Linked DNA regions of Homo sapiens: all the other regions are linked to region 3. The links come from fine-mapping of genetic effects on gene expression. A gene starts in region 3. Each other region holds a variant in brackets. All regions are shown on one strand. Distances are between the middles of the regions. Region 1 overlaps MYO7B (myosin VIIB). Region 2 overlaps MYO7B (myosin VIIB). Region 3 holds the start of MYO7B (myosin VIIB). Region 4 overlaps MYO7B (myosin VIIB).

Region 1 (8,136 bases), 42 kb after region 3:
ATATACTAGGATGTAATGCAAAATATCTTTCTTACTGTGGATCACATCAGAAAACTTGCAGAAACAGCTTTACAAAAAAGACTGACCACTTCCGTGTGCCCTGGCCTGGACACGCTGTTGGCACTCCCCATGCCGGCTTGGCCTCTCCGTATCAGCCTCAGCCCTGCAACCTGAGCCATCTTTCTAAGCTGTGAATCTGCTCCCACACTCTCTCAGAAGCTTTACTGCTTCCCTTATTACTGCAGAATGATTGCCCAAGTTCTGAGCCCGGCATTTAAGGCTCTGTGCCACCTGGCCCTACCTACTAACTAGTTCTGTCTACCTTCCACTGCTTTCCTCCTGCATCCCACACTCTGACAAGATTTCTGCGTCTGCAAGCACACTCCATGCTTTTTCTGACCTCCGAGGTTTTCCCTGCATTTTTGTCTTCCTCTTAGCGGGCGCTTGGCTTCCGTCACTGTCTGGTGCAGCCGTGCCCATTCTTCAATTCGAGGCTTGGCCACCTCCTCTGAGAAGCCCTCTTACATGATCCCACTCAAATTACATTTTCTCCTCTCTGCTCCCATCATGGGCATCGCCCGCTTACCTTCAGCCTTTGGAAATGCCAAGACAATCCGCAACGACAACTCAAGCCGCTTTGGGAAGTACATTGACATCTACTTTAACCCCAGCGGGGTGATCGAGGGCGCGCGCATCGAGCAATTTCTCCTGGAGAAGTCCCGGGTCTGCCGGCAGGTGAGGCCTCCCCCTTCCCAGGTCGGGAGTTGAGGGAATGGGGGAGGTTTCCAAGAGGGGCCCCTTTCCCACTCTCACCTCTCCTCCCCTCTTCCCCAAGGGCCCTCCCAGAACCCACAGGCCTCACTGGATAATGAGGGCCCTTCCCCAGTATTCCAGGACAGCAAATGATAGAAATTTTTCCATTTTGAGCAGGGCTTGGTGGCGCACGCCTCTAATCCCAGCACTTATGGGAGGCCAAAGCGGGTGGGTTACTTGAGGCCAGGAGTTTGAGATCAGCCTGGCCAACATGACAAAACCCTGCCTCTACAAAAAATATGAAAAAAAAAATTAGCTAGGCAGTGGCACACGCCTGTAATCCCAGCTACTTGGGAAGCTGAGGCATGAGAATTGCTTGAGCCTAGGAGGCAGAGGTTGCAGTGAGCTGAGATTGCACCACTGCACTCCAGCCTGGGCAACAGAGTGAAACTCTGTCTCAAAAAAGACTTTTCTCCATTTTGAATTTTCCATTCACATACATTTCTTCTTTCTTTGGTGCCTACCATTCCTCATCCCTACTAGAATTAATTCTGAGACTAGGCTAGTTGGGTGGGCCGTATCTTCAGGTATGTTAGGGGACATGGCAGAAAGACACAGATGACAGTATCCCAAATACCACATGGCCAGGAAGTACAGTGGCATGTGGCCTGTGTTGTCACACCAGGCCCTGTGCTCAGGGGGCCCCATGCTTGGTTTCATGCTCTGCTATTGCCACCTTGAAATTCTTACTAGCTTTTTAGCAAGAGGGCCCATGGTTTCCTTTTGCACTGGGCGATCATGTAGCCAGTCCCAAATGGTAGGAATCCCAACACATGGCACCCACAACAGCAGAATTAATGCACCTGTGTGTGTGTGTGAGTGTAAGGGGGTGCTCTCGTATGATGGCATAACACCTAACACATGCATGTGTGCAAATGAGTGCACACACACAGAAGGGGTCCAGAGGGGAGAATGCCACCAACAGAGGGGCTGTGGCTGTGTGAGAGGGACAGATGCCTCCGCACTGTGACAAGCTGAGAAGGAAGGTCACATTTAGTGACCCTCCGACCTGGTGCTATACTTTTCCTGTTTTATCTCATTTGACCTTCACAACCATGAGAGGTAGGTCTCTTTATCCCTATTGTACAGATGAGAAAACTGAGTCCAGTTAAGTTCGGCCCCTTGTCCAGGGTCACAGAGCCAGCAGATGGCAGAGTCTCTCTGCCCTGTCTGGAAGCTCCTATTTCTTGATATAGTGGTTGCTGAGTTCATAGAACTTGTCACCCAAAATGATACCCTGAAATGGGCAGGAAATTTCTAAAGCAGGTGAGAAACAAGGCCTGCCCAAGAAAAGAGAAAGAATTTAAAATTACGGCATATCTATACTACAGAGGAGGCGGTCTGTCCATGTCAATGTAAAGGATCACCAAGAGATATGTTTAGGTGAAAAAAAAGGAAGTAGCAGAACCACAAATATGTTTTGTGTAAAAAAAAAGAAACAAAGAAAAGAAAAGAGATAACTATTTATAGATATACTATAAGTAAATGTTTTTTTAAAAACATGTCTAGGTTCTGGGGCGGGGAGGAGGGGATTTAAGAAAGGGGAAGGCAGGATGGAAAGGAGCTCTCATTTTTTTGTTTTTGATCCTCCCACCTCAGCCTTTTGAGTAGCTGAGACTAGAGGTGTTTACCACCACATCCAGCTAATTTTCTTATTTTTTGTAGAGGTGAGGTCTCACTATATTGCCCAGGCTGCTCTCAAACTCCTGAGCTCAAGTAATCTTCCCGCCTCAGCCTCCCAAAACTGCTGGGATTACAGCCCAACTGAGACTCCCATCTTTTAACACTACTGCATATGCTTCAGATTGTTTGATTTGTATGAGAATGCATTTATAAATAGTGTTTTAAAAAATACAGAAGGCACCCTAGGCAACATGGCAAAACCCCATCTCTACAAAAAATACAAAACTTAGCCGGACGTGGTGGTGTGTGCCTGTGATCTTAGCTACTTGGTAGGCTGAGGTGGGAGGATGGCTTGAATCCAGGACTTCGAGGCTACAGTGGGCTGAGATTGCACCACTGCACTCTAGCTTGGGTGACAGAGCAAGACCTTCTCTCGGAAAAAAAAAAAATACTGAAGGCCTAGGGAGCCCCGTGGCTGTCAGATCTCTCGTGGGCCACTAAGTGCCTGTGAAGACTGTGGGACTATAAGAGAGCCCCGACTCTGTGCCATCACTCCTGGCCTGGAGACTTTGGGCACAGCAGTGTCAGGGCTTCGAGGAGCAGTCAAGATGCAGGGAAATGGAGTTCTCAGGGCAGGGATGAGACAGCCGCGGAGGCCCGGGACAGGGACAGCAACCAAGCCAGGCTGGCCCTGGGTCAGTGCCAGAGCTGCTCCTGGCTGAGAGATGTGGAGCGGAGGCCAGGGCTGGGCTGGGCAGAGGCAGTCTGAGGCCCTGAGGCCTCAGGGGAATGGCTCATGAATCTGTCTGGAATGCCCTCCCTCCCTCCCAGGCTCCCGAGGAGCGGAACTACCATATCTTCTACTGCATGCTCATGGGGGTGAGTGCTGAGGACAAGCAGCTGCTGAGCCTGGGCACGCCCTCCGAGTACCACTACCTGACCATGGTGAGCTGCCCACCTGCCGCCTCCCAGTAGCCAGTGGAAGGGAGGAAAAAGAGCTTGTGCCGCTCCACCCTCCGCGACAGCTGCAGAGAAGCCCAACGCTGGCCGGGCCCCTGAGGCGGGGCTGGTTCCCTTTGCCTCTCCTCGCCAGCCCCTCTCTGCTGGGAATCACCTTGCCCGCGTGCCTCCCGCTTCCCCGTCACATGTACCCCATGCCCCAGGCTGGACCCGGGGCCTCCCCGCAGACCTCATCTTCCTTTGGTCCCCACTGGATGACAGGCTCCCGGTGCCCAGTGGGCCACAGGGAGTTGCCCACATGCCTCCTGCTCCTGATTTCACTCCAATTGTCTGTCCTTGCAGGCCCCCTAAAACGTAAGCCCCGGGCCCCAGGAAAGCAAAGCCCTTCCTGTGCTCCCAGCTGCACCCGCCACCTAGGACAGGGCGGCACCACAGCCATCGCTCATTAGCTGAGGCTCCCTGGCCCTCAGGAGAACTGCGCCTCCTGGTTTATTGACCACAGAGTGGACCCAGAGCATTCTGCCTCTGGGATCTCTCCCATGCAACCCTCT[C/G]TCCTGGGTCCACTGCTCCAAGGCCTTCACCAGCCCCTGCCTAGACTTCATGGGTCCCCCATCGCCAGTCTTGACCTCTAATCTGTCATCTACCCTGCAGCCAAAGCACTCTTCCTGTAGGAAGGTTTGCACTGTAGTGTCATGCTTTGGATGGCACTGCTGCAGTGACCCCTGCGGCTTGTAGGGTAGAAGTCCAAACTCCTCCATGTGGTTTCCAGGTCCCTCCAAGATCTGCCCCTCTGCCGACCTCTCCCTTCTCAACACCCACCCCAGCCTCCCCGCAGCCCTGTCCCTGCCTCCCCACCTCGTGGCCTTGCTCCCATCATCCTCTGCCTAAACTGCCCTCTGTCCTCAGAGGCGGTGGGGCCAGCTCTGCACCTCCTCCAAGAAGCCTTTCTCCACCTCTCGATAGGGCTGGCCCCGGCCCCTGTGGTCTGGGCACCTGTAACAGGCAAATGGCCATGGCACGGTCACTGGCTCCCTGCCTGCCCCCCTGGATGCGCAGCACAGGGCCTGGCCCATGGCGAGCCATGGAAAGTGTTTCTTAAAGGAACAAACCCACAGTGTCCCCCAGAGAGACAAGGCAAGCTCGAGTAGGGACGAACGACAAATAGAGGATCAGAGAAGAAGTGTGACTTGGCCAAGGTCACACAGTGGCCAAATGCTGGTGCTGGTGGCAAGGCCTGATCATGCTGTGGCTACTGTGTCATGATTCTGCCTCTGAAAAGAGTTTTTGAGCGTGGACCCTACGTGGTCCACCCATTGCCTATGAAGTGCAGTGTCTCAGCCTTGCTGGTCCCAGGAGGGAGGTGGTGGGGCAGGGGATGGCCCCATTCACTGAGGCACCCTGTCCCTCAGGGGAACTGCACTTCCTGTGAGGGGCTCAACGACGCCAAGGACTACGCCCACATCCGCTCGGCCATGAAGATCCTCCAGTTCTCCGACTCCGAGAGCTGGGACGTCATCAAGCTGCTGGCTGCCATTCTCCACCTGGGGAATGTGGGGTTCATGGGTAATGCCGGTTCTGCCCCAACTGCACCCTTGGGGAGGGAGAGGGAAGGGGACAGGAGCAGGAAGGCATCTCTAGGGGTTCTCACAGGAAGGATCCTGTGGTCCAACCCAGGCCTGGAAAAATATATCTAAAAAATTCAGCTGTGATTTTGGAGGCCTCGTGAGGCAAAGGGGAAAATGTCAAAGCTTAAGGCTCTCCACAGGTGGAGACCGGCCAATCATCCCCCACTTTTAGCTGGGACCCAAAAGGGCTTCCCCCTTAAGGTTCAGGTAAGCCAGAGTAAACAAATCCACGTGTGAACTTGCAAACCAGGTTGTGAGCAAGGGGTGGTCTGGGGATTAAGTTGTCCTGACCTGTGAACACCCCCAAGCACCTAACGGCAGTTATTGACAGTCCTCGCTGGAAAAAAGCACCAGCAAGTTAGATTACAAATGATTCCTGTGAGTAGTTTTTCAAACACAACATCCAGCATGAAGCCAGGAAGAAATAGGAACAAGGAAATGAGATACCATGAACAAGAACCGGCAGAAATAATAAACAGTAGAAATCGATCCACAAAGATTTCAAAGTTGGAATTATTAGACACAGACTAGAGAAGTTCTGCTTATTTTGCTCAAGAAAAGAAGCAGCCAAGCTTGAAAATTTAGACAGCGAATGGGAAACTTTAAAGACATTATAGATTTATAAACAAACCACATAGAAATTCCATTCTAAAATTAAAAAAAAAAATAACCAAAAGGAAGAACCCAATGGATGGTTTAAGGGATTCTGTGCCTGTCTAGGAGATGGAATGTGTGAGCTGGAGGGAAAGTCAGGAGAAACTGAGTACAGCATGGAGAGAGGAATGGCGGGAGATGTCAGAGAGAAGGTGGAGACTGGGAGGACACCGTGGCAGAGGGAGCACACCTTTCATTGGAGTCCTAAAGGAAAGGAGAGAGAAAGGGGCAGAGGCAATATTTGAAGAGATAGGGCTGGTTCCAGAACTAAGGAGAGACCATTCTCAAAGCAATGGGAAGGGATAGACTTTTCATAAACTGTTCTAGAGCAATGGGGTGTCCATATAGAAAACAAAAGCTTGGGCCACCATCTCACGCCATGTGAGAATATTGCTTCCAGGCAAGCTGCAGCTGGGCTGATCTGTCGTCTATCAGCCAGACTGCACACTTCGGCCAGGGAAAGGTGGGTGCTAACCAGAGGTGGGCACCGGGGCCTGGGACAGCATCAGAAACATGATGCTGAGGAAGTGAAGCAGGCACAAGAGAATGCAGACAGATCCACTAACATAACATTTGTTTGTTTGTTTGTTTGTTTGTTTTTGAGACAGGGTCTTGCTTTGTTGTCCAGGCTGGAGTGCAGTGGTGGGATCTCGACTCACTGCAAACTCCACCTCCCAGGTTCAAGCGATTCTCCCACCTCAGCCTCCTGAGTAGCTGGGATTACAGGGGTCTGCCACCACAGCCTGGCTAATTTTGTATTTTTAGTAAAGATGGGGTTTCACCATATTGGTCAGGCTGGTCTCGAACTCCCAACCTCAGGTGATCCTTCTGCTTCAGCCTCCCAAAGTGCTGGGATTACAGACACAAGCCACTGCGCCTGGCCCACTAACATAACATTTAAAAGCCGGCACATTAAATGCTGTTTAGGGACTCTATGTAGGGAATAAAAAGCTAGGAAGTTAGAAGTCGGGAGGGTGCTTACCTCCGGAGGAGAGGGACACAGTCTCAGCCCGCAAGGACCTCGGAGGGCTGTGGGTGCTGGCAGATCCTAGATTTGGCTTTAGCGTGGTTACGTGGTGCTGACTTTATTCTTTACAACACAGCTTTGTGTTTTATGCACTTCTTTATCTGTATATTTTATCTCCAATTTTTTTCAGTTTAAAAAAGAAAAAAAGCAAAAACAAAGACACCCAAAGGTCCCGTCCCCCACCAGCCTGGCACGTCCTAAGCTGGACGTTGGTTGAAGAGGAGGAACTGGAAGCTGGGAGGCCAGTCAGGAGACGGTTGCAATAGAGCCAGGCCTGGCTTACAGCTGGAGCTCCATTAGTGCTTTGCTTCCTGTGACTGAATAAATAACGAAATGTCCGGGTTTCCACACCCAGCAGCATGGACTGAGGGGCCTGATGGCTCATCTCTCCAGTGCCAGTGTCTGCTGTGTTTCCCAAGTCAGACTTCTCCCTCCAAATAAGCCCACCTTTCTTTAAACTTCCCTTCGACCCAGGGCCCTGGTCTCCTCAAGAGGAAGTGGTCTGCCACGTTCATCAACAGCTAAGGTGTGAATGACCCATGGTCATGGGGCCGTTGGCTCCCTCAAAGAGAGGACACTGGGAGAGACCGTGGCTTACGCCAGGGCAGCTGTCCTCCTGAGTGGATCTGGGGCTGCCAAGGGCCCGGGCCAGTCGGGACCTTGCTCCCATCGCTCCAGGCTGCTTTCCAACTCAGCATTCCTGCTTCTCTCTCTAGCTTCGGTCTTCGAGAACCTGGACGCCTCAGACGTGATGGAGACGCCCGCCTTTCCCACCGTGATGAAGTTACTGGAGGTAGGGGTGCTGTGCCCACAGCTTCCATTTTGGTGGGGGGCCTCAGAGGCCTGGGCTGACAGACCCCTGACACCTGATTCTTATAACCCTACCCAGGCCCCCACCCCTTTCCCAGGGCCTATGCTCAAACCCCTCCCTTCTGTATACTGCAGGTGCCTGAGGGTGGGCGCAGAGTGGGGCAGTGCCAAACAGAGCGGCGGAATGGCCAGTTTGGCTTTAATGAATGTTTCCTCCCTTTCCCTCCATTTCCTCCTGCTTGTCAGTGGCCCTGTTTCAGTATCCTCGCCCTCCACCCTGTCAGGTCCCTAGGCTCCCCACTTGGACCCCAACCCACCCATCAGACTAGCCCTGCCCTGTGCCCTCACCCCGCAGGGCTTCTCCGGGGCTTGCACTATTCTGGGAGAGTGGAATGTGCCAGTGAGTCTGGGGCCCATCCCATTAGCCTTCCCGGTTGTTCCCCAGTCCAAATGCAGCCTTGGCTTAAAGGAAGGGCTGCAGGCCCTGAGTGAGGGGCTACCTCTGCAATGGGGACATGGCAGCACCCCACGTCACCCCCATTGACAGTTCTGGTGGAAAATTAATAGAATCAGGAGCAAGAAATAAATACATAAAGCAAGCAATCACATTAGGTACCTTTTGCT
Region 2 (8,136 bases), 82 kb after region 3:
TTTAACAAAATTTGGGAAACTGTTGGTCATTATTTCTTCACATATTTTTCTACCCCATTCTGTCTCTCTCCTTTCCTTCAAAATCTAATTAAGCCTCTGTAAGATTCTTTTATATTGTTCTTCAGGTACCTAGGGGTCTGCTTATCTTTTCTTTCTTTTTTCTCTGTGTTCTTTAGATTGGATAGTTTCTATTGACCTGTCTTCAAATTTACTGATCTTTTGTCTTCCCTAGTCTGCTGTCATATCCATCCAACAAATGTTTTATTTCAGATATTGTATTTTTCAGTTCTAGAATTTGTATTTGTGTCTTTTTTATATTTCTGTGCCAAGATTTCCTATTTGTTCATTCACTATGAGCATTGTTTCCTTTATATCCTTGAGCAGATTTACAGTAGTTTTTAAATCTTTTCTGCAAATCCAATACCTGGGTCATCTCACGGTCAGTCTCTATTAACTGTCTTTTCTCTTGAGGATGGTGGTGTGTTTGTTTGCTCATATATCTGGTACTTGACTGTTTTTTCCTCATAAGTCTAGTACTTTTGGGTTGTATCCTGGACATTGAGGATGATACGTTAGAGACTCTGGATTCTGTTATACTCTTTCAAAGAGCATTGATTTTTTGTTTTAGGAGGCAACTACCTTGGCTGGACTCAAACTCTGTCTCCTCCATGATGAGCAGAAGCTAGAATCCCTTTTTAGTTATTTTAGCCTTGGCTAGAGTACCTGGAGTCTGCCCCACCATGTGTGTCAGGGGGCAACCAGAGATTTGGGAAGATTTTATGTGCAAAATTTAGGACTCCTCTGATTGTCTTTATTCCAAGATTTCCCTTCTCACTTTCAAGCTACTGTGGGTACCCTAAACTCTCTCCTCTGGTTCTTCAAGCCAGTAAGACTACAGGGCTTCTCAAGTTTTAGCTGCCTGCATGACACTAGCTGGGCAAGTCTTCTGACTTAGCTGGTTCTAATTCTCTCATGGTTAATCCTCACTGGCCACCACACCACACCCTCCAATATGGCAGACACATAAAAGCTATATTCGAATGATGTGTACTTTGGGTTCTTCAGACACCCCCTATAGGCACTCCCATACAGTGCTGGTGTCCAGCAGTGATACTGTCCAACACTGATCCCTTGAGACTTCCTACTGACTCTAGGCTGAAGTGGAACATCCCACAGCCTCTTACTGCTGGGGTCTTCTAGAAAATGGGCTGCCTGCTTGTGTGGGATCCCATCTAGATGCCTGAAGCTCAGCTCCTTCCACGACATCTTTTGGTCAGCAGGAAGCTCATGCCTGCCCAACCATACAGTACATGTACAGCTCCCATCTCCTGTCCTCTCTCCTCCTTGCCCATCAGGATGGGCTCAGAATTCTCCAGGAACAAGCAGGCGCTAATGTCTTTGTTCATGGAGGTCCCTAACTCCAGAGTACAAAAGTCAAGCACTAGCAAGAACTCAATCAACAGGCTCTATTCTAGTACCCTGGGAGGTGGCAAATGGGCTTCTGGAGCTCAGCAGGCATCAGATGGGGAGTGACATGGGTCTCTTCTCTGGCAGCCCCCAGTTCTCCTGGGGTCCCCTTCACCAACCTCATCACTTACAGGGAGTGGAAATGGGCCACAGATCTCTCTATCCCCATGAAGTCCCTTCCAGGAATCACATTCCAAATTTCTTATCTTCCCTTATGCAGGCTGGAGGTGGCTTGGTGGCTGCACTAGTTCTGCCACCTTTTAGTAAATCCTACAAGAATGTGTCTCTTTAGAACGTCGGATATGAGCATCCATTTGTCCTTGGCTGCAGGGCCTTGGTGAAATTCCCAGACAAAGCAGATGCCCTGTTCCACATCTGTCACACATTCCACACACACTTGCTCATTACCCACTCTGGGTCAGGCCCCAGCCTGAGGGCCAGGGACAGAGATGAAGAAGACATGGCTCTGTCCTGGAGGAGCTCACCCTTTAGCTGGGGGGCACGAGAGGACCAGGAAATTCACAATGCCAGTGAATTTCCTGGTCCTAAGATGGACCAGTGCTAAGATGGAGGTCTGTTCAGGGCCCCACAGGTGCACCAAGGAGGAGTGGCCTTAGTGCCTACCTGGGCCAAGGAAGGAGGAGGGGTGTTTGCCAGACAGAGGGAAAGGGTAGACGGGTCACCCGTGACAGACTGCCATGGTTACTACTTGAGACCATTGCTACGATAGTTACTACTGTCACTACTTGAGACCATCGTTATGAGACAGAACAAAGGGGGATGAACGTAGAAATGAAAACTGAAGACAAAAGAAACTTTTAAAGGAAGGGGTCAGGGGAAGAAGAAAAGGGCTCCCTACTCCTAGTGAGCAAAGACAGCCCCCGCCCTGAGCTTCTTCAGCCCTTAGTATTTATTGGGTAGAATGAGCAGGGAGGAGGAGGTAACGATTGGTCAGCTGCTTAATTGATCACAGGTTCATAGTATTACTAACAGGCTTCAGGTGTGCCCTGTAGATAATCACAAGAAACACTTGTGCCTGGGTCGTGACTGCCCTCAGCATTCCTTCTGGGCGGTAGACGCGGTTTGTCAGTTGGCCAACATTCTGCTTTTATGAGAACAGTTTGCTGTTTGCTCATATAGCCTCCAGTGGTATACTAGATCACGACTCTCACTCTTTCGGCCTGCAACATCTCTCCCTTTTTGTTTTGAATTAATTGAGAAAGGCAATTGCAGGCTGTGCAGCCCTTAATTGCCAGTTGGTGGTTTGTTCCGTCTTCGCATTCAGCTGGTACTGGGGGAACCAGGCCCGTGGTTGGGATCCACAGGTCCCTCCAGTCTCCCGTTGCATGGTCGCACACAACTTGAGGGCACCTACATGGTTTGTTCATTTCCTGTGAAAACACAAGCATACCCTCGTTCCCACAATAGTAAATCTCCTGAAACAGAAGCAAAGGCTTTTGTGGCTGCAGCCGGGAGGCATGCCGTTGCTGAAGCATCCGCTCCACAAGCTGCAACTCAGCTTCTGCCTCTTTGGTTAATTACCGCGGGGTAAAACTCCACTGATAGCAAGAGGCAGGCTCTTTCTGATTAACAGAAGGCACAGAGAAAACAAATCAAGAGTTTATCCTTCTCCTGCAATAACAATAAAAAAAAATCCTCAAGCTCTATTACCATGAGAGATCGTATCCATAAGCCCACAAAATCTACTTTCTTCAATTTACACTGCACAAGTGGATCTACTAGATGCTATGGGTTGTGATAGATAAATCTGTCTCCTAGTTGTACTTCCAAATCCCTGACCTCCTCGCTTCTTCTTACGTAGAGAAGGGTACAATTTACAGGGAATAAGCAACAGTTGAGCAACTTATTCTCCCGGTTCAAAAACCCAAAGGCCTTGTGATATCACCACCACCTGAATTTCTCCTTCACAATCCGAATCAACAACTCCTGGGGTTACAATAATGCCCTGTAAATTAAGACAGCTTTTACCTAAAATTAATCCCACATATCCTGTTGGCAAAGGTCCCCAGATACCGGTGGGAATCTTAGTGAGTTTGTCTCCTCCAGTTAACGTAACGCACTCCGACTGGGAGATCCAATCCTGCATTTCCAGGCATTCCTGGAGAGAGGGAATTAATGTGCCTCCGGAGACCCACCCCTGAAGCAGAGCTGTGGCCTGGATGGGGAATGCCCTCATTGTTTGAGGTGCCCAGGTCCAGGCCCCCTTCTCATTTCCCGACAGGGGGGTGCCATTTTGATGAAATTTTGAGTGGCACTGATGAGCCCAATGATTTCCTTTATTGCAATGAGGGCAAAGTCTTGGTGTTTTTCTGTTGGGAGGGGAACCGTGTTATAAGATCCCTTTTGCCCAGAGGTCTGGCGGTGTTCTTTTTTGAAATGTCCAATTTTCCTACATTTATAACATTTTCCCACTTTAGGGCTTAACCCTTGGCTTCTTTTAGATCTGTCAGTTACCAAATTAGCCATTGCCTGAGTCAACATTGCAGAGCAATGAAGCTCAGTTCCCACATCTTGACAAGCTCTGAGAAAACCTCCCAAGTCCTCTGCACATCTCACAGGTACCAGCGCACGTTTACAAGCCACGAAAGACAAAGCTAAAGTTCGCCTTTCTGTAGCTGCAAAAGAAGACGGTACAAGCCAATTTTCATCCTTCCTCTCCCGTTCACCACTTTCGATAGGTGCTGTAGGTGGGGCAAAAAATTCTCTCAAACCCTGAAATGACAAGAAAATGGTATGTACCAAACTCCAAACAAAAAAGAGAAGAGAACCAAATTCTTCCCCATGTTACCCTGATTGAAAAACTTCCCGTTCTTTGTACCTCTAGGACACTGACCAGTACCTTTTTAAAGCACTGACCTTATGCTGCCAGCAGACTTGTAACGGGGTTTTTTTTTTTTTTTTTTTTTTTTTTGAGACGGAGTCTCGCTCTGTCGCCCAGGCCAGACTGCGGACTGCAGTGGCGCCATCTCGGCTCACTGCAAGCTCCGCTTCCCAGGTTCACGCCATTCTCCTGCCTCAGCCTCCCGAGTAGCTGGGACTACAGGCGCCCGCCACCGCGCCCGGCTAATTTTTTGTATTTTTAGTAGAGACGGGGTTTCACCTTGTTAGCCAGGATGGTCTCGATCTCCTGACCTCATGATCCACCCGCCTCGGCCTCCCAAAGTGCTGGGATTACAGGCGTGAGCCACCGCGCCCGGCCTTGTAACGGGGTTTCTTATTCATCTGGTTGGTTTTAGTTTTTTCTGGGCTTTAGTTTTTTTTTTTTTTGCTCCAGCAGACCTTCCTCGCTCAAGTCCTTATAGGACCCTATTGTCCCTATCTGTTCCTGTCTGTCCCTGCAAGTTTCTCCTAGTCTTTGCTAGTCCTTGCTAGTCTTTGTCTATCCCTATCTGTCCCTATAGTCCCTGTTAGTTCCCGCAAGTCCCTGTCTTTCCCTAGCTCTCTCTATTTGTCTCTATTTCTATTTATCCCTACTTATCTCTATTTGTCCCTGCAGGCCTCTTCAGGTCCCTTCAGGTCTGTTTGTCCCTGATTGTCCCTGTTACGTCCCTGTCCAGGCAGCACTTGCAGCAATTTGCCACTGTTACTACTTGAGATCGTCATTACGGGAGTTACTACTGTCACTACTTGAGACCGTCATTACGAGACGGAACGAAGGGGGATGAACGTAGAAATGAAAACTTAAAACAAAAGAAACTGTTTTAAAGGGGCCAGGGGAAGAAAAAGGGCTCCCTACTCCTAGTAAGCAAAGACAGCCCCCACCCCAAGCTTCTTCAGCCCTTAGTATTTATTGGGTAGAATAAGCAGGGAGGAGGAGGTAACGATTGGTCAGCTGCTTAACTGATCACAGGTTCATATTATTACTAACAGGCTTCAGGTGTGCCCTGTAGATAATCACAAGAAACACTTGTGCCTGGGTCGTGACTGCCCTCAGCATTCCTTCTGGGCGGCAGACGCAGTTTGTCAGTTTGCCAACATTCTGCTTTTATGAGAACAGTTTGCTGTTTGCTCATATAGCCTCCAGTGGTATACTGAGCTGATCACGACCCTCACTCTTTCGGCCTGCATCAGTCACCCTTGAGACAGCCCACAGGGTCTGGAATTTATGAGTGGTTTGCCATTGTTGGGGCATGGAGCTTGGATTCCATCCTAAGGGAAGTGGGGAAAGTTTTAAGCAAGAGAGGATCTTGATCATATTTGACTTCCAGAAAGACCTCCCTGGCGATGTGGCAGGATGGAGCCTGGGGCTGGGAGGCCAGGCAGGGCTGCTACAGAGATCCAGAGAGAGCTGATGAGGAATTGCCCAAGGAACAGGAGCCAAGAGGAGGGGACAGAGGAAACATGCAGGAGACAGATGGTAGCATGTGGGCACTGGTTGGATCGTGGGGGCTGGTTGGATTGTGGTGGCTGGTTGGGTTGTGGGGGCTGGCTGAATGGTGGGCGCTGGTTGGATTGTGGGGGCTGGTTGGGTTGTGGGGGCTGGTTGGGTTGTGGGGGCTGGTTGGATGGTAGAGGCTGGTTGGATTGTGGTGGCCAGCTGGATTGT[G/C]GGGGCCGGTTGGGTTGTGGTGGCTGGTTGGGTTGTGGTGGCCAGCTGGATGGTGGTGGCTGGCTGGGTGGTGGGGGGTGGTTGGGTTGTGGGGGCTGGTTGGGTTGTGGCCAGTTGGATGGTGGTGGCTGGCTGGGTGGTGGGGGGTGGTTGGGTTGTGGGGGCTGGTTGGGTTGTGGGGGCTGGATGGTGGGGGCCGGCTGGGTGGTGGGCGCCAGCTGAGTAGTGGGTGCCGGCTGGGTGGTGGGGGCTGGATGGATGGTGGGGGCTGGTTGGATTGGAGGAATGAAGGGATGGGAGGGCTCCAGGATGACCCCCAGATTTCCAGTTTGGGTGAATGGCTGATGGCGATGCCTGTAGACCACAGAAAGAGGAGGGATGCAGGAACTCAGAGAGCCAGCCATGCACATTGCTTCCCATCTCTGTTCGGTGATGTCGTGTCGCAGTTGACATTGGCTTTGGTGGGAACATGTACACCACAGAAATAAGCAAATGCTGTGAATTGGGCTTTTCTTCTTGGGGGAGCTGGTTGATAAACATTTACCAGCACACCACTGAGTATTAGGGGAAAGATGCTGGCCTCTGGAGATGTGGCATTTGAGGTGTTAATGGGCCACTTTTATAACATGATAGAGGCTTGAGTCCATGGGGAAGGACGCAGGAGAGAACCGCCCCCAACACACCCCCACCAGGAGTGGGGAGGCTCCACAGACCGTGGGAGTAGGAATGGTCAGGAGATGGGGTTGAGTGGCTCCCATGAAGTCCTCACTTTTCTCTCTGCTGTGGAGGGGAGGGGCTGCATTCAGGGAGGGAGGTGGGGCCTCAAGGCAGAGAGAGAAATGACTGTAATCACCGTGAGACTGGGGATCCCGCACATCTGGGAGCAGATGGGCTGTGCAAAGGGCGCGGCTGCTGAGGACAGGGCTGTGGCTGGAGAACCTGCTGCTTCCTGAAGCCGAGCCCCACCCTAAAGGACCGAGAGCACAGGCCATGGGAGAGGAATCGAGTAGGGATGCAGAGCCTGGTGGCACTGTCCTGAGAGAGGAGGAGGCTGGGCAGGGCCCCGGCGCTGGAGAGGTGCCCTGCATATGGGACCTCTCAGAGGTGCACAAGAGCTGTGTGCCCAGGTACCCCTGTCTCCTCTCCTCCTCCAGCCCCCAGCCTACTCTCCTAATGGTCTGTGTCTTTCAGGGATGAGATTTACTGCCAGATCTGCAAGCAGCTCTCGGAGAACTTCAAAACAAGCAGCCTGGCCCGGGGCTGGATCCTGCTCAGCCTCTGCCTCGGCTGCTTCCCACCCTCAGAGAGGTTCATGAAGGTGAGAGGGTTCATGAAGGGAGGGCGGGCAGGGGGCAGGTTCTGGTGGGAGCGTAGGTGGCCCCTGGCCCTGGAGCAGGTCCACAGATTCCAGTACGTGGCCCATTTCTCCTGCTCCTGCAGGCCAGATGGGCAGCCATGCCTATGCTTCTCCAGGACTCAGTTTCCCCATCTGGAAAAGAGGACCCTGCTCCTGGCTCCTTCCAGCCCCTACGCAGGGTCTGCAGGGCCATTTCACTTTGGCTCAGGTGTCAGGATGGTGCTTCAAGACTAAAATGAGAAGGTAGATGACACGGGCCTTGAAAAGACAGGTGTCCAGGAGTGGGCCCTGCCTGGAGATGTGCCACGGCACCTCTTTCTAGTTCTTAGGACTGAAAATGGAGCTGGGTTGGCCGAGTGTTAGTGGCCCCAAGCTTCACTGATTTAATATGCCTTTAAATTCTGATTATAAAAGTAATATGTGGAAATGCAGAACATCTAAAACCAAAATAAAAGTCACCCCCACACTCAGAGCTAACTTCCGTTAATATTTCCTTCTGGCCTTTTGTGGTGTTACAGGGTCCTTGTGATCAAACAGAAAACACTTTCTCACATGTCCCTTTGGGGACAGCAGGAACCACGGTCACTGAAGCCATCTGCGCATGGCACTCAGGCTGCTCCTGACACCAGTAAACCCTTCCAGGCTGTTCCTCCCCACCCCAAGGCAGAAGAAATAACATCTCTCTGTGAGACAAAAAGAACTTCAATGTGTTTTCTTGAGCATGTTGGGGACATGGACTCTTCTG
Region 3 (8,136 bases):
TCTTTCTCCCAGCCTCCAATGGCACCTGGGCCTGTGAACTATATATTGGTTCCCAACTGGGACTTTGTCCCCCAGAGACATTTGGCAATAATATCTGAAGACATTTTGATTTGTCACCACTAGGGGTGGGGACATAACCAATGGCTGCTGCTAAATGTTCTGCAGTACACAGGACAACGCCTCTCATTCCCCAACAAAGAACAATCTACTCCAAAACGCTAATAATGCCAAGACTGAGAAACCCTGAACTACAGGACAGAATGTGCCCTGTGATCTACTGTCTTGTACTGTGCACAACTGTGTTTCCAGGGAAGCATTTAAGCGTTGCTTCTCTTCCCAGATATTCCCTTGCCCCAGCATCTCAGAAACCAAGGCAACAAAATGGGCAAGGCCTTTCAAACCCTGGGCTAGGGCCAGCAAGTTGGGGAAACACCTTTTTTTTTTTTAAATCTCTGAAGATAGGATGTCTCATGCATCACTGGGGTGAGGAAGGAGGAGGTCTGGTTTGTCTGAGGGTTGGCGTGGTATAATACATCCCAATAAGCCCAGGCCATGGGGTCAGGTACACCCTAATTCAAACCGCACCTCTGCCACTTTTGGTTGTGTGGCCTAAGCAAGTTTCATAACCTCTTTGACTTTAACTTCCTTGCTATGAAATGAGGAGAAGCACCCCTCATTTGTTGAGGTTTGATGAGGGTTGAGTGAGATGGTACAAGCAAAGAGCCCAGCACAGAGAAAATCCTTATCACATGCCAGCTCTTTCTGAGACTGAGAATTCAAAAATGTTCTAAAGAGTAGTTCAGTCGCAGAGGTCTGTGCTGCCAACCTTGCTGTTTCATAGGGTTAATGGATAATTTGGCTGCTGTAGCCTAGATGGGAATATTAGGGCCACCATAAGCAAGTGACTTCAGTTAGCTCTATGATATGCTGGTAGAGCTGAAGCGAAAGGCTTGCTCTGTGTCAGTCGCTGTGATGACGCTATAATGGGCTTGGTCACTGACAGGAATGGAATGAACCATAGGTTGTCCATGGGCGCATTTCAGCTCAGCTCACAAACATGTTTTTCAAGGTTAGCTGAATATTTGCGTCTTGGGAAATGAGCACTACGCTAATTGTGGAAGTAGCACTGGGCTGGGAGACAGCCAAGCCTGGTCGCCCGTGTTACCAGGAAGAGCCTGCCCTGCCTTTCCCCAACCCATCTTCTTGATTTCCAGGGCTTGGGGTCCCTTGGCTATGGAAAGCCTGAGGCTCCAGGAGAACCATGCCTCAGGGTGTCCCCCTTTGCACCAACTCACACAGCAATCAGACCAGGTCCTTGCAATCATAGGCGCAGTTTTGACTGGGAGGGAGGACTTGGCATGCCACTTGAGAAATATTAGCAACCAAAAATTCATGCCCACTGTTCTTCCATAGTGGAAGATCTTCTTCCAGAGATCCCACTGGAATCTTCCATAATGACAAAATGCAAACAACGCTGAGAGCACAGATATGTTCATTGCAGTATTGTGTGTGACAGCAAAGGATTGGGTACCTCCCAGGGTCCATCCAGGGAGGATGGGTATACAAATGATGGGGCACTTGTGTGACATACTGTCACGCTGTTTCTAAAGACCAATGGTAAAAGTTTGGTACAGTGTCAGAAAGTTCTTGTGATATAATGTGTAACATAAAATAGAGAGAGACAGAGAATAGCAGGTCAGTATCTAAAATGTGTTTCTGTCAAATTTTGCATAAGGTGAGAACTGGATGGGAACATCTTACAGATTGTTTTGGTCCACACAGATTTTCTGTCCCAATATTTTCTTACATGAGGGCAGTAGAAAAGGTCCGAAGAGGACTCAGTCTCAGCCCCAGAGCAAGGGGTTCACCATCTCTGGGAGCTGCCAGGAGCAGCAGCGTCAGCCCTAGAGGAGCTAAATGGTATCTTTCTAAACCCGAGAAACCATGTGCAGCATGAAGCTCAAAAAGGCTGAGTGTGGACCCAGAAACCGAACCAAATTTTAGGGAGCAGGAGGCTAGTCAGAGCAAGGGCAGAACTTGGGGGGCTGTTCTAGGGGGAACAGGCGGGACAGGGGGCCGCCTGAAAGACTCGGAACATGCAGCTCCCTCCAAGTGGTCCTTCAAGGGATCTCCCAGCTTGGTTCCCTGTCTTTGGGATGGGCCATTTGGTTTTAAGATACAGAAACTCCTTCAAGCCATGTCAACAAAGAGAACATTTAATAGACGGAAACTGGGGACTCCATGGAGCCCACCCACAGGAGGCACAGGAAACCCTGAGGCATCGGGGGTCTCCTCCTGTCTCTGGAGCCACTGGGTCTCCACCTCTGCAGCTTGTCCACCTCTCCTTTTCTCTCCCACCACCGCTTGGTCTGTGTCCCCACGAAAGGTCCATGTTCAGGGTTGCCACCCTGCCTTGACCTCAGTTCTAAAAGACGATGGCTCATTCCCACATTTCTGCCTGCAGTTCCCAAGTCCCTCCAAGTCCAAGGAAAAGAAAGGAATCTGATTGGCTCTAGTTGGGCCAACTGTAAGGATGACCAGACCCCTTTTTTACCCAACACAAGGCCTGTGGCTGACCAGGTAACTACCTGCCCCTATTATCCACCCGCCTTCAAAGCCTTGCATAAATGAGCTCCCCTCGCCCTCCTGCTCACTTCCAGGGACTGCCTGGCCCCTCCAGTCTGACCCCACCCAGGGCCCACTGCGGTTGCACTTCCCTTCTAAACAGTCTGTATTTGCCTTAAGCCCAAATCCCCCTTGATCAAGTGCCAGCCCAAGCCTGCCCAATTTGTTGCCAGGTACCCTCCTGGGAACCTTGTTGTCTGATGGCCTTTGTCTCTAAGGCTTCCTGATGGCCCCAGACATGTCCCAGGTGTATGCTCCTTTCACACTCAACACAGAACACTCTCTTGACCAGGTGTCCAAGCAGTTCTCCAGCAGACTCCGTCTGGATGTCCTATAATTCAATTCAATCAGACACTGTCAACCTGGAGTCATAGATCCCACAGGTTAAGGGCTCAGTCCCACAAAACTGCCCCACTTCAAATGCAGTCTCAAGTCCTAGGTTGCCACCTATACTTCTGACCAATTGGCTATAAATCGGGGTTCCCATGCCCCACACCTGAGGTTGGATTTGCTAGCATAGCTCATGGAACTCAGGACGGCACTCATATTGACCAGTTCGTGGGAAAAGATTTTACAAAGGATTACAGATGAGCAGCCGAATAAACACGCACAGGTGAGTTGTGTGGGAAGGTCATGGAGCTTCCATGCCCTCTCCCGCATGCCACCCCCCAGGGACCTCAGATGTGTGGAAGCTTGTCAAATCTTGTTCAAGAGTTTTACCTTCCCAGAGGTCAGTAGGCGGGGCTGAAAGTTCCAACCCTCTATTCACTAGGTCTTTCTGGTGACTGACCCCATGCTGAGGCTAGGTAGGGCCCCCACATGGTCACCTCCTCAGCATAACTTCAGGTGTTATCAAACGGACTCATTATGAGATGATCACTTGGGAAATTTTTTGTTTGTTTGTTTGTTTGAGACGGAGTCTCGCTCTGTCACCCAGGCTGGAGTGCAGTGGCCCGATCTTGGCTCACTGCAAGCTCCACCTCCCCGGTTCACGCCATTCTCCTTCCTCAACCTCCAGCTGGGACTACAGGCGCCCGCCACCACGCCCAGCTAATTTTTTTGTGTGTGTGTTTTTAGTAGAGATGGGGTTTCACCGTGTTAGCCAGGATGGTCTTGATCTCCTGACCTTGTGATCCGCCTGCCTCGGCCTCCCAAAATGCTGGGATTACAGGCGTGAGCCACCATGCCCGACGATCACTTTGGAAATTCTAAGGGTTTTAGGAGTTCTGTGACACCAACCGGGAACAAGGACCAAATATACTGTATTTTATATTATACTACCACCCTCAATTAGAGCTTGGGGTGCTTGGGGGCAGAGCTCCTGCCATGCAGCACCTGGGAAGATGCTGAGCCCCCGGATGGTCAGCTGACTGTCACCATGGGATCTGGCTGGTGGCCAGAGCAGGTGCACAGACTGCAAACCCTGGTGGCCTCCGGGCAGCATGCATCGCTGCTCTGCAGAAGGGGCCTGGGTTAAAGAGCAGGTATCATGAGGCTCTGCCAGCTGGGGCTGAGGGAGGCGTGTGGGAGTGGAAGTGCCTGGAGCCCAGGGACAAAGTCCTGTAATAAATTACGTGGGCCCAGAGTGCTCCCAGTCATTTCCTCTTGGAGCCCTACCTCTTCTTCCTCTGTCCCTTACTCCCTGACACACCCGGAGTCCCAACATTGCCTCCTTTCCTGGCTCTTTCAGGGTGCCCAGGGTGGAGGGGAAGGGGAGTCAGCCAGACCCCCATCCTGACAAGGTAAGGGCGTGCCGGGGGCGTGTCTGCCAGCGGGGAGTAGGGGGTCACCTCTCTGAAGAGGGTCGCTGGGCAGGAGGCAGGTCCCCTGGAAATAAGATGGAACAGGTCTGAGGGATAGAGAGTGGAGAAGCCCTTCAGGAGCCTGGAAACCAGAAACCGCAGCAGGGGACTCAGTCCATCGGGCTGAAGGGCAGCACCTGGGGGGCTGAGGAGGAGGAGGAGGGGGAGAAGCTGTCTAGCCCTCTGCTGTAGAAGGGCAAACTCCCTGCAGGAGGGGAACGGCAGGTGCCAAGGCTGCTCCCACCCTGAAGCCTCCTCACAGCTAGAGGGCCTCACTGTGGAATCATGGGACATCATGGATAGCCTGGGTCCCATGATGAGCCCCTGCCAGATGTCAGCTGTGCCGTGTGTGACATCCCACTGCGTCCTCGCAACACAGTGGTGGAATTGCCTCCATTTTATGGACACAGAGACTGAGGACCATGGAAGCGAAGGTGCCCACGGGAAGAAGCAGAGCCGGATTCGACTCCAAAGCCCAGGCTTATCCGCCTTACCCATGTACCTTGGGCAATTGGCTTTAGTCACCTCTGGAAGGCTGGGACCCTAGGGAGAGGCAGGACAGGTCTGGGGTGTGGTGGGGGGGGGGGTGGGGGAAGAGGTGGCTGAGGAGAGGGACCGCACCGGGGCTCACATGGGCTGTCCCCCTTGAGCTGTCCAGGTGGTGTGTGTCCCATCCCCATTTCACAGAGGACGAAACTTGAGACACAGAGATTGTGAGAGCTGGCCCAGGTCAGACAGCTGGTGGGTGTGGGGCCCCCAACCCAGATCCCCCAAATTCTCCATGACGAGGCCTCCCCTTCAGGCTCCACTTTGTAACCCTGGACTTGAATTTTGCTCTAATTTATCAGAACCCTGCACTTTGTTTAGGATTTTAGTTCAGAGATTCACACACACCCTCAGTGAATCATTGTTAGGAACCACTCAGCTCATCAGCCCACCCCATCTCCCTGGACCTGCTGGGGGCCCTACGTCTGTCCTCAGATGCCACCTCTAAGAGAATCCTCCCCAGGCGGCTGTCTTGGGGCCTGCTGCATCCACAGCTCTAGCACGGGGCTCTGTGGAGAGGCGGCACCACAGGGATGACCTATATGTGTTGATATTGCTTCCTGTTTTACATATGTCAAAAGACAAAATTATAAAAAATTTATCTTAAAGATCTTAATTGGCTTTTATTTGCAATTCTAGAATTGGGCAACACCCCACTTATAGAATACAATGAATGATCTGATGAGCCGAGCAGAGGAGTTTGGCTTTATAGACAGAATGGGGCTGAGAGAAACAGAAAACAAAAGGGGATTAGTCATTTCAATTTATTTTCCTTGTAAAGGATAGAGCTGAGGGAACTTCCTTATCATGCCCGCTGAAACTGGCCTGTCTGGGGCTCCAGCTATTGTCTCTCTCCTGATTCTTGGAAGGTCAGATAACCTTCGTTTGGGCCTGGTGGTGTGGAACTTCAGCATGAGTGACTCCATTTTGGTCTGGTCTGTTGGCCTTGTGTAGGAGCTCAGACAAAACCAATGGCCTCCATACATTTTACTTAACACATGTATTTAAATGATGTTTGTGTGCCCATTCTTGGTCCACATACCAAGCTGTTCAGGGAGGAAGAGCCAGAATCTTAGCACATTTTTCACAGAAGAGATGAAGAAGGGTAAAGGAGACTGGGCATGGTGGTGGCTCATGCCTGTAATCCCAGCACTTTGGGAGGCCGAGGTGGGAGGATTGCTTGAGCCCACAACATGGGGAGACTCCATCTCTATAGAAGAATAAGAAGAAGGAATAGGAGGAGGAGGAAGAAGAAGAGGAGGAGGAGGAGGGGGAGGAGAAGGAGAAGGAGGAGGAGGAGAAGGAAGGATTTGACCAAGGCCACTGGACTATGAGCTCCTCGAGAGCCTGGGCTGGGTTTCTCTGGGGTTTTTCCATCTCCTGCACATGCCCAGGCCTCAGCAGAGAATGGACACTTGGCACATGCTGAATGAATGAATGGAGTAGCTAGCGGCAGAAGACGAGCTCAGGATGAAGTCAAGTTTTCAAATCCAGTGTCATTGTAGACTCTGTTGTCTGCCTTTCCAGCAGTGTGTAGTGTGTTCCTTCACTGCCAGCTGGGGAGGCGAGGCTGCGAAGGAAAAGTGACCCATGTACACCAGAGGCACAGACCTCCGGCATTGAGTGGTCAGAGGAGGCGGTCCTGGGGCTGAGGACAGGTAGGGGTGGGAAGGGATGCAGCAGGCTGTGAGGGGAGGATGGTGTGAGGATGAGGGTGGGGAACGGGGGATGTTCCAGGTGGAGGAAGTGGTAGCTGCAAAGATACAGAGCAAAGGAAGTACCAGTAAGGCTTGGGCACTGTTGGCGCCTGGCAGGGATGAAATACGGTTGAGGGGGGTGGTAAGATATGCTCTAGAACGTTCCATGATGATAGAAATGTTCTCTTCTGCACTGTCCAAAACAGTAGCCACTAGCCACAAGTGGCTGTTGAGCACTTGAAGTGTGGCTAGTGCAACTGAGGGTCTGAATTTTTAATTCAGCTCATTTAAATTTAAATAGCCACATGTGGCTAGTGGCTACCATATCGGACAGTGCAACCTAGAGGGTCTTGCTCATCAGGTTAAGAGAGAGGTGAAGTGGAATAAGCAAACGCTTTGGAGCCAAACATTTGCAGATTCAAATCTTGTTTCTTTCTTTTTTTTTTTTTGAGATGGAGTCTGGCTCTGTTGCCCAGGCTGGAGGGCAATGGCATGATCTCGGCTCACTGCAACCTCCACCTCCCAGGTTCAAGCAATTCTTCCCCCTCAGCCTCCCGAGTAGCTGGGATTACAGGCGCACACCACCACGCCCGGCTAATTTTTGTATTTTTGTAGAGATGGGGTTTCACCATGTTGACCAGGCTGGTCTTGAAATCCTGACCTCATGTGATTCACCTTCCTCAGCCTCCCAAAGTGCTGGGATTACAGGCGTGAGCCACTGCACCAGGCTCTGCAGAAATCTTGAGTCAAGAAATCTTGACTCAGTCACCTACCAAATGTGGGGCCTTAAGCCTCAGTTCCCTCTTCTATCAAATGGAGTAGCATCACTTACCTTGCAGGGTTGTTTTACAGATCAAACTAATGAGCAGGTGCTGGAAAACTTTCAGCACAGTGTCTGTCTGAGCTCCTACTCTGTTCTGGGGGCTGGGGGCAGAGTACTGAGGGTATGAAAAGGAACCACAGGGCAGTGGTTCATGCACAAGTATATGTATCTGTCAATTTCTCTTTCATCCCTTGCCTGCCTTATTCAAATACTAAACAAAACAGAGTGATATGAGGCAGCTTACAGTATACCTATAATACAACAGAATCAAAAATAAAATAAGCTGGGACGTAGGATAAATGAAGGTAGGAAAATACACTGCAGCTGGGAAAATGTTAGTAAACAAAATGTACATCAGAAAATCCCATATATTTGCTAGGCATAGACACAAAATTTGTTCTGAACTTCCAGATAGTCACGCACAAAACTATGCAGTAAAGATTAATAATGTTCTCAAGTTAGGCAAAAGCCAGTTTCCAAGGGGAAGACCAGCTTTCCTGTTGCAATGTCATGAAGGGGATAAAAAGGGAGAAAACGACATTGGCTATAACAGGAAATTCAGGAGAGTTTTTAAAGAGCTATTTGTAGAAAAGGAAGGAAGATTTCTCAGGGACTATCTCTACATGAGGGAGGGCACCTCACG
Region 4 (5,790 bases), 90 kb after region 3:
GGCTCGGCCTCCCCAGGCGTGACCCCCATCTCCAAATCCATATTCCTTTAGGGCCCTACTAGCTAAGGGGAAGATCACCGGACCCACTCATTAGCATTACAGTGCGCCAGTTGCTTCCAGCACTCCCCTCCAAGGGCATTTCACTTGGTGACAAGGGCAGTAGTCACACCATGGTTGGCATCCTTGGTGGCATTGCTATTGGGCACATGTGCCACCTCGACCTGCTTTGGCAACTGTGTCATCTGTGAATTCTCGCTGTTTTCTCAGGAAGGGTCATTCAGAACAGCCAGCCAGGGTGGCGAGAGCACACCTGCACCCGGCTCTACACAAAGCTCTGGCCCCAGCCTAACCCCGGCAGGTGCCCGCCCTGTGACCCGAGGTGCCCTATACCAGGAGCTGTGGGTCACTTCCGCTGCACCTTCTTTCTGTTCTCACCCTGCCCCCGAGCCCACAGGGGCTCCCTCCCACGAGCCCTGGAATTGTAGGTGAACTTGCAGTAGCTGTGCATGTTGACACAAGGGAACAATACGTAAAGGCCCCAAAATGTTCCCGAGTCCTGGACTCAGATTCCCAAGAGCTCCTGGTCTTCTGTGAGGTGAAGTCACTGAACCACACCAAGCTCAGGATTCTCATAAAAGCAGCCACTATGGCCTCAGGCTGCCCCCACTGGAGGTCCAGGAGGACCTGGACGCCTGTGGCTAACATTGCTCTTGCCTGGTTGCTGTGCTTCCAGCGGCAAACACCTGTTGGCCTGAATTTTGTTTTCTATGCCAAGCCCATGGCCTGGGGCTTCAGAGGGCCCACCCCTGGGAACCCACGGGATGGCAAGCAGGGCCCATGGGCTGGGGAGAGGAGGGAGGTAGTGGATGGGGGGTTGGCCTCCTGTCCATAGGTTCCAAGAGGCCAGGGAACTGAATCTCATCTGTCCCCAGGCTGTCAAGTCCAAGAAGCACATCCCCATCCAAGTCATCTTGGCCACTGGAGAGAGCCTAACCGTCCCCGTGGACTCAGCCTCCACATCTCGGGAAATGTGCATGCACATCGCTCACAAGCAGGGCCTCAGCGACCACCTGGGCTTCTCCCTCCAGGTCGCCGTGTACGACAAGGTACCAGCCAGGCACCCTGCCCGTCAGCCGCCTCCCTCATACACCCAGGGAGAGCACCCTGAGGCTCAAGCCCTCTCACCTTTCCAGCCCGGCCACCACCTACCCTCCCAGCTGCCAGGCACAGCACTGCTTACCCTCCCAGCCACCAGGCACAGGCAGGTGCACACACACAGAGCAAACAGCCTTTCCTCCCGCACTCATATGGTCACCTTGCAGCTGCGCCTCAGCCCCAGCAGTGCCGCATGCACACCTGGTCCCCCACCCAGCAGCCACGCACAGACATCAGGCACTCACACCAGTCTCCTGCTCCAAACTCCCTCATGCCCAGGAGCTGTGGACACCCCTGCAGCAAACATGGAGGGTCACACCAGCACAGACCCTCACCGCCCACATAGGCACCCCCAATTCCACGCCCACACCCTCAGACTCACACACCAGTCATCCAACCGAGGCGCCGGATGAGTCACATCGGCCAGACTCATGTCTGCCTCCTTAGGGAAGGGGCTGCAGGGAGAGTAATGGGGAGTGGCAGATGGGCCATTGCTGTGTGGAGAAGCCCTTCAGGTGTCCACACGGGCTCAGCAGTGTCCACTCAGCCCACGCTGGGCTCCAAGGGCCCCAGGCCCTGTCTTCTACGTGCACACGCTGACGGTGGGCGTCCCCGTGGGGTGGGGCATGCAACAGCCGCTAACCCCTGCTCCCCGACTCTGGCCTCAGTTCTGGTCCCTGGGCAGCGGGCGCGACCACATGATGGATGCCATCGCCCGGTGTGAGCAGATGGCCCAGGAGAGGGGCGAGAGCCAGCGCCAGTCACCCTGGCGCATCTACTTCCGGAAGGAATTCTTCACCCCCTGGCACGACTCCCGGGAGGACCCTGTCAGCACCGAGCTTATTTACCGCCAAGTCCTCCGAGGAGTCTGGTCTGGCGAGTACAGCTTCGAGAAGGTGAGGGGCCTGAGAGCCAGGTCCACCCTAGGCTTTGCCATCAGGAAACATCCCATAGAGGAGGCACCCAACTGGCTTCTGAGGCCAGGTAGAAGGTGGGGGGGCAGGAAAGGGGGTCACAAGGGTGTAGGTCCCTTCCAGGCCCAGCCTCTGTTTCCTCCTCCCTTAGGCCACAGGTATGTCCAAGCCTCCGGGGTCCGTGGTTCTGGCAGCAGGTCCCAGAGGGCCCAGGCCTTGCCTGGCCTCACCTCTCCTGCTCTGTTTATGGGGCAGTGAGATCTGGTGGCCAAGAACATGGCCTTGGAGCCCTAACACCTAAGTCTGAATCCCACCTCCCCATCTTCTTGGCATTGTGACCTTGGAAAGTCCTGTCACCGCAGAGCCCTGGGCCCTCATCTGACTGGGGGGCTCGGGAGGGGCTCTCACCTGGACCGTGCGGAGTGTACCGGGAGCTCTTTTGTAGGGGATTGTGAGAAAGCAGAGTGATCGTACCCCTGAAGTTCTGGGGGCAGCAGGCACAACCCTCCCTGTGCCAAGTCAGGCAGATGCTGTTCCGGGACCCATTGGAGGCGGCCATAGCAGTGCAGGAAGCCCGCCTGGAAGAGGCATGGGCAGGGGGTGGCAGGGGACCAGGCTCCAAGAGGCTTTGGTCTTCCAGAGGGAAGGGGCTCCTTGGGTGCTGCCCAGCTGGGCCCCAGCAGAAACTCCGCAAGGGGGGCTACTGGTCTCCCTTGACAACCAAGGACTGGAACTCAGATGAGGAAACGCCTTGTCACTCAGAGCAACCCTGCTGGGTCCACCCCAGAACTGGAGAGCAGCCGTTGTCCTCAGGCAGAGGGCCTGTGAGGCTCTGGCCAAGGCCTCTGGGATTCCCAGCCTGCATGGTGGCCCAGTCAGGGCATGCAGGGAGGGGGAAGGTCCTGCCCGAGCCACAGGTTAGC[T/C]CCCCTGTGATGGGGCAAGAGCCCGGCCACGGGACAGGGGCATCCTGGGGAAGGGGGGAGCTCTCACTTGTCTCACTCGCCCCCGTGGGTGCCCTGGGCTGTGCAGGAGGAAGAGCTGGTTGAGCTGCTGGCCCGGCACTGCTACGTGCAGCTCGGCGCCTCAGCAGAGAGCAAGGCTGTCCAGGAGCTGCTGCCCAGCTGCATCCCCCACAAGCTGTACAGGACCAAGCCCCCAGACAGGTGGGCGAGCCTCGTCACTGCCGCCTGCGCCAAGGTCAGCCTGCATGCAGCTCAGGCACCCACCCGAGGGCTCTCCTTTGGGAGGTGGGGGGGCTCATGGTATACAGAGGAGATGGATTCCCTCCCCACAACCCCCACCCCCTGGGGAACAACAAGCCTCAGCTTGACAGTTAAGTAGAGCCCTGTCCCTTCAGGTTTAAGCAGTCCCACTCAGTTCAGCTCTCTGTCACAGGCCCATGCCACCTTCTTCCTTCCAAGCTGGCATCTTGGATGGGTCCCTGTGCTGGTCTGCACTGTGGTGTCTGGCCAGGCCCTCGCTTCTTGGGATGAGAGGGCACCTGCAGTGGCTGACTGCTGACCATACCATGGCCTTGGGGGCCCCCCTGCCTGCCTCTGGGCCTCAGCATCCCCTCGCTGGGTGCATGGGAACCCCCCAGGCCAGAGTGTATGGACATTCTAAACATTCGATACATATCGAATATTTTCAAATCACCCTTCAGATTTGATGCATTTATTACATTCCCAAAGCCAGTATATGAATAGTACCCAGCCACTTTTCTAAGAAATAACGCTGTATTCAACAGTGAAAAGAGAGTTCGGTTGGATATTATAGTCGGTGATGGACACAGCACAGTGGTGCTGGGGAGAGGAACGGGTGAAGGTGGGGAGTTAGGAAAGAGGAAGGAAGGAGACTGGAAGACAAGGAGCTAGAGGTGGTCCCCGAGAGAGGCCCCCAGAGACACAGAAGAGCTCCAGAGAAGAAAGAAGAGAGGCACCCGGGACACAGACTCGGAGCAAGATGCCCTCCTGCACGGAACGAGTCACAATCCTGCAAGGCATAGGCTGGCAAGAGCGAGCCTGGGCTGGGGCACACAGACAGCGCCTTCCACAGCTAGCGCAGCCCCGCCCTACAGATGCTAATGAGGGGACGGGATGGCCTTCCTCCCTCCTCCTAAAGGGTCCCCACACCCCTCCCAGGTAGAATAGGGTGGCGCCAGGCTGGACGTGGTGGCTCATGCCTGTAATCCCAGCAGTTTGGGAAGCCAAGGCAGGTGGATCATCTGAGGTCAGGAGTTTGAGACCAGCCTGGCCAAGGTGGCAAGACCCCCTCTACTAAAAACACAGAAATTAGCCAGGCGCAGTGGCACGCGCCTGTAGTCCCAGCTACTCGGGAGGCTGAGGCAGAAGAATCGCTTGAACTCGGGAGGCGGAGCTTGCGGTGAGCCAAGATCGCACCACTGCACTCCAGCCTGGGTGACAGAGCGAGACTCTGTCTCAAAAAAGAAAAAAAAAGGATAGGGCTGCACCAGTCCCTGGGGACGTCCCAGGTGCCTCCCTACAGGATCCATCTCCAGACACTGGCCTTGTAGAGCCTTCTCAGAAGGATCCATCAACTCTTTTACCCTGAGCACTAGGTGAGGGATTCACTAGGGAAGGCAGGTGACGGAGGTGACATCCAGGATCCCCCCTCAGGCCCCATACACTCAGAAGCAAGTCACACCACTGGCCGTGCGAGAGCAGGTGGTGGACGCCGCCCGCCTGCAGTGGCCGCTGCTCTTCTCCCGGCTCTTCGAAGTCATCACACTCTCAGGTAATGGCATCTGACAGGGGGCAGGGAGCAGGTATGGGCTGGGCACCCAGGGGTCCCATGCAGCCTTCACACTGCCGTCTCTCCTGGCCAGGCCCCCGCCTGCCCAAGACGCAGCTGATCTTGGCTGTTAACTGGAAGGGGCTTTGCTTCCTGGACCAGCAGGAGAAGATGCTGCTGGAACTCTCTTTCCCAGAGGTCATGGGTCTGGCCACCAACAGGTGCGGGCCCTGAGGGAAGATCTCTTCTTACACACTGAGTCCTTGTGATGCATCTGGGGGCTCGGGGAGAGATGGGGAGAGGGGCAGTGTGCCGTCCCGGGTAACAGGCCGGGGTGGAGGGACAAGAATCTACGTATGCGATGGCTTCTGTACTTCGGAGCCCCACCCTCCTGCACCAGGCCGTACTGCCCATGAAGTACTCCATTGGGGCATCACGCGTTGCACTGGCAGCTTCTCTTTGAAACCCAGGTCCACCCGGAAGGGGCAGGGAAGCGTGCAGCCTCTGGCGGGCACTTATTTAGAAGGCTCCTTTCTTTGTCATGGACGAGAACTGGTGGCCTGGAGGGTACAGGTTGTCTGGGAAGGCGACAAGGGACAGTGCCTGGTGTGTCCTGGGGCACAGGGCAGGGCTGGGGGTCCTCTTAGGCTGGGGCTGACCCCCACTCCCATGGGTCTCCATGGATCTCATTGACTGGGAACTTTTCCATGCCCTTTGGGAAGTCCCACCCAAGCCCTGCCAGAGCGCCCCTTGGTTGAAGCACACAACAGAGTGGCACATGCATCTCTGGGCTGTGCCAGGTGTACAGTGGCCACCACTCCCCACTGGCCACCTCTCACTGAGGCTGACCATGCTGGGCACTTTCCTGTATGCCACGAAGTACCGACAGCATCACCCATTCTGCAGATGAGCGGATGAGTAAACTGAAGCACGCCGAGGTTAGGTGGCTCAGAGTAAGCACATGGCAGAG

The links. PIP is the estimated chance that this variant, and not a neighbour inherited with it, causes the effect.
Region 1: its variant is the best candidate, but not a certain one, in a credible set for the expression of MYO7B in subcutaneous fat (GTEx, PIP 0.74).
Region 2: its variant is the best candidate, but not a certain one, in a credible set for the expression of MYO7B in whole blood (INTERVAL, PIP 0.50).
Region 4: its variant is the best candidate, but not a certain one, in a credible set for the expression of MYO7B in whole blood (INTERVAL, PIP 0.65).

The regions. Positions count from the first base shown.
Region 1 is chr2:127,573,328-127,581,463 of GRCh38, forward strand. MYO7B (myosin VIIB) reads left to right here. Exons shown (of 48, transcript NM_001393586.1): 7 at 593-735; 8 at 3,268-3,381; 9 at 4,806-4,959; 10 at 7,419-7,495. Among named protein-coding and RNA genes, the nearest start is that of MYO7B, 42 kb to the left of the region's middle. RefSeq lists enhancers at 4,277-4,830, 4,879-4,928. The variant C/G (reference allele first, on the strand shown) is at 3,948.
Region 2 is chr2:127,613,115-127,621,250 of GRCh38, forward strand. It overlaps MYO7B (myosin VIIB), which reads left to right. Exons shown (of 48, transcript NM_001393586.1): 27 at 7,226-7,352. Among named protein-coding and RNA genes, the nearest start is that of MYO7B-AS1, 14 kb to the right of the region's middle. RefSeq lists an enhancer at 7,085-7,134. The variant G/C (reference allele first, on the strand shown) is at 6,035.
Region 3 is chr2:127,531,465-127,539,600 of GRCh38, forward strand. It overlaps MYO7B (myosin VIIB), which reads left to right and starts at 4,219. Exons shown (of 48, transcript NM_001393586.1): 1 at 4,219-4,367. RefSeq lists an enhancer at 4,251-5,101.
Region 4 is chr2:127,622,270-127,628,059 of GRCh38, forward strand. It overlaps MYO7B (myosin VIIB), which reads left to right. Exons shown (of 48, transcript NM_001393586.1): 29 at 933-1,106; 30 at 1,824-2,051; 31 at 3,099-3,266; 32 at 4,706-4,823; 33 at 4,915-5,041. MYO7B-AS1 (MYO7B antisense RNA 1) reads right to left here. Exons shown (of 3, transcript XR_923314.3): 3 at 3,728-5,790. Among named protein-coding and RNA genes, the nearest start is that of MYO7B-AS1, 5.6 kb to the right of the region's middle. The variant T/C (reference allele first, on the strand shown) is at 2,993.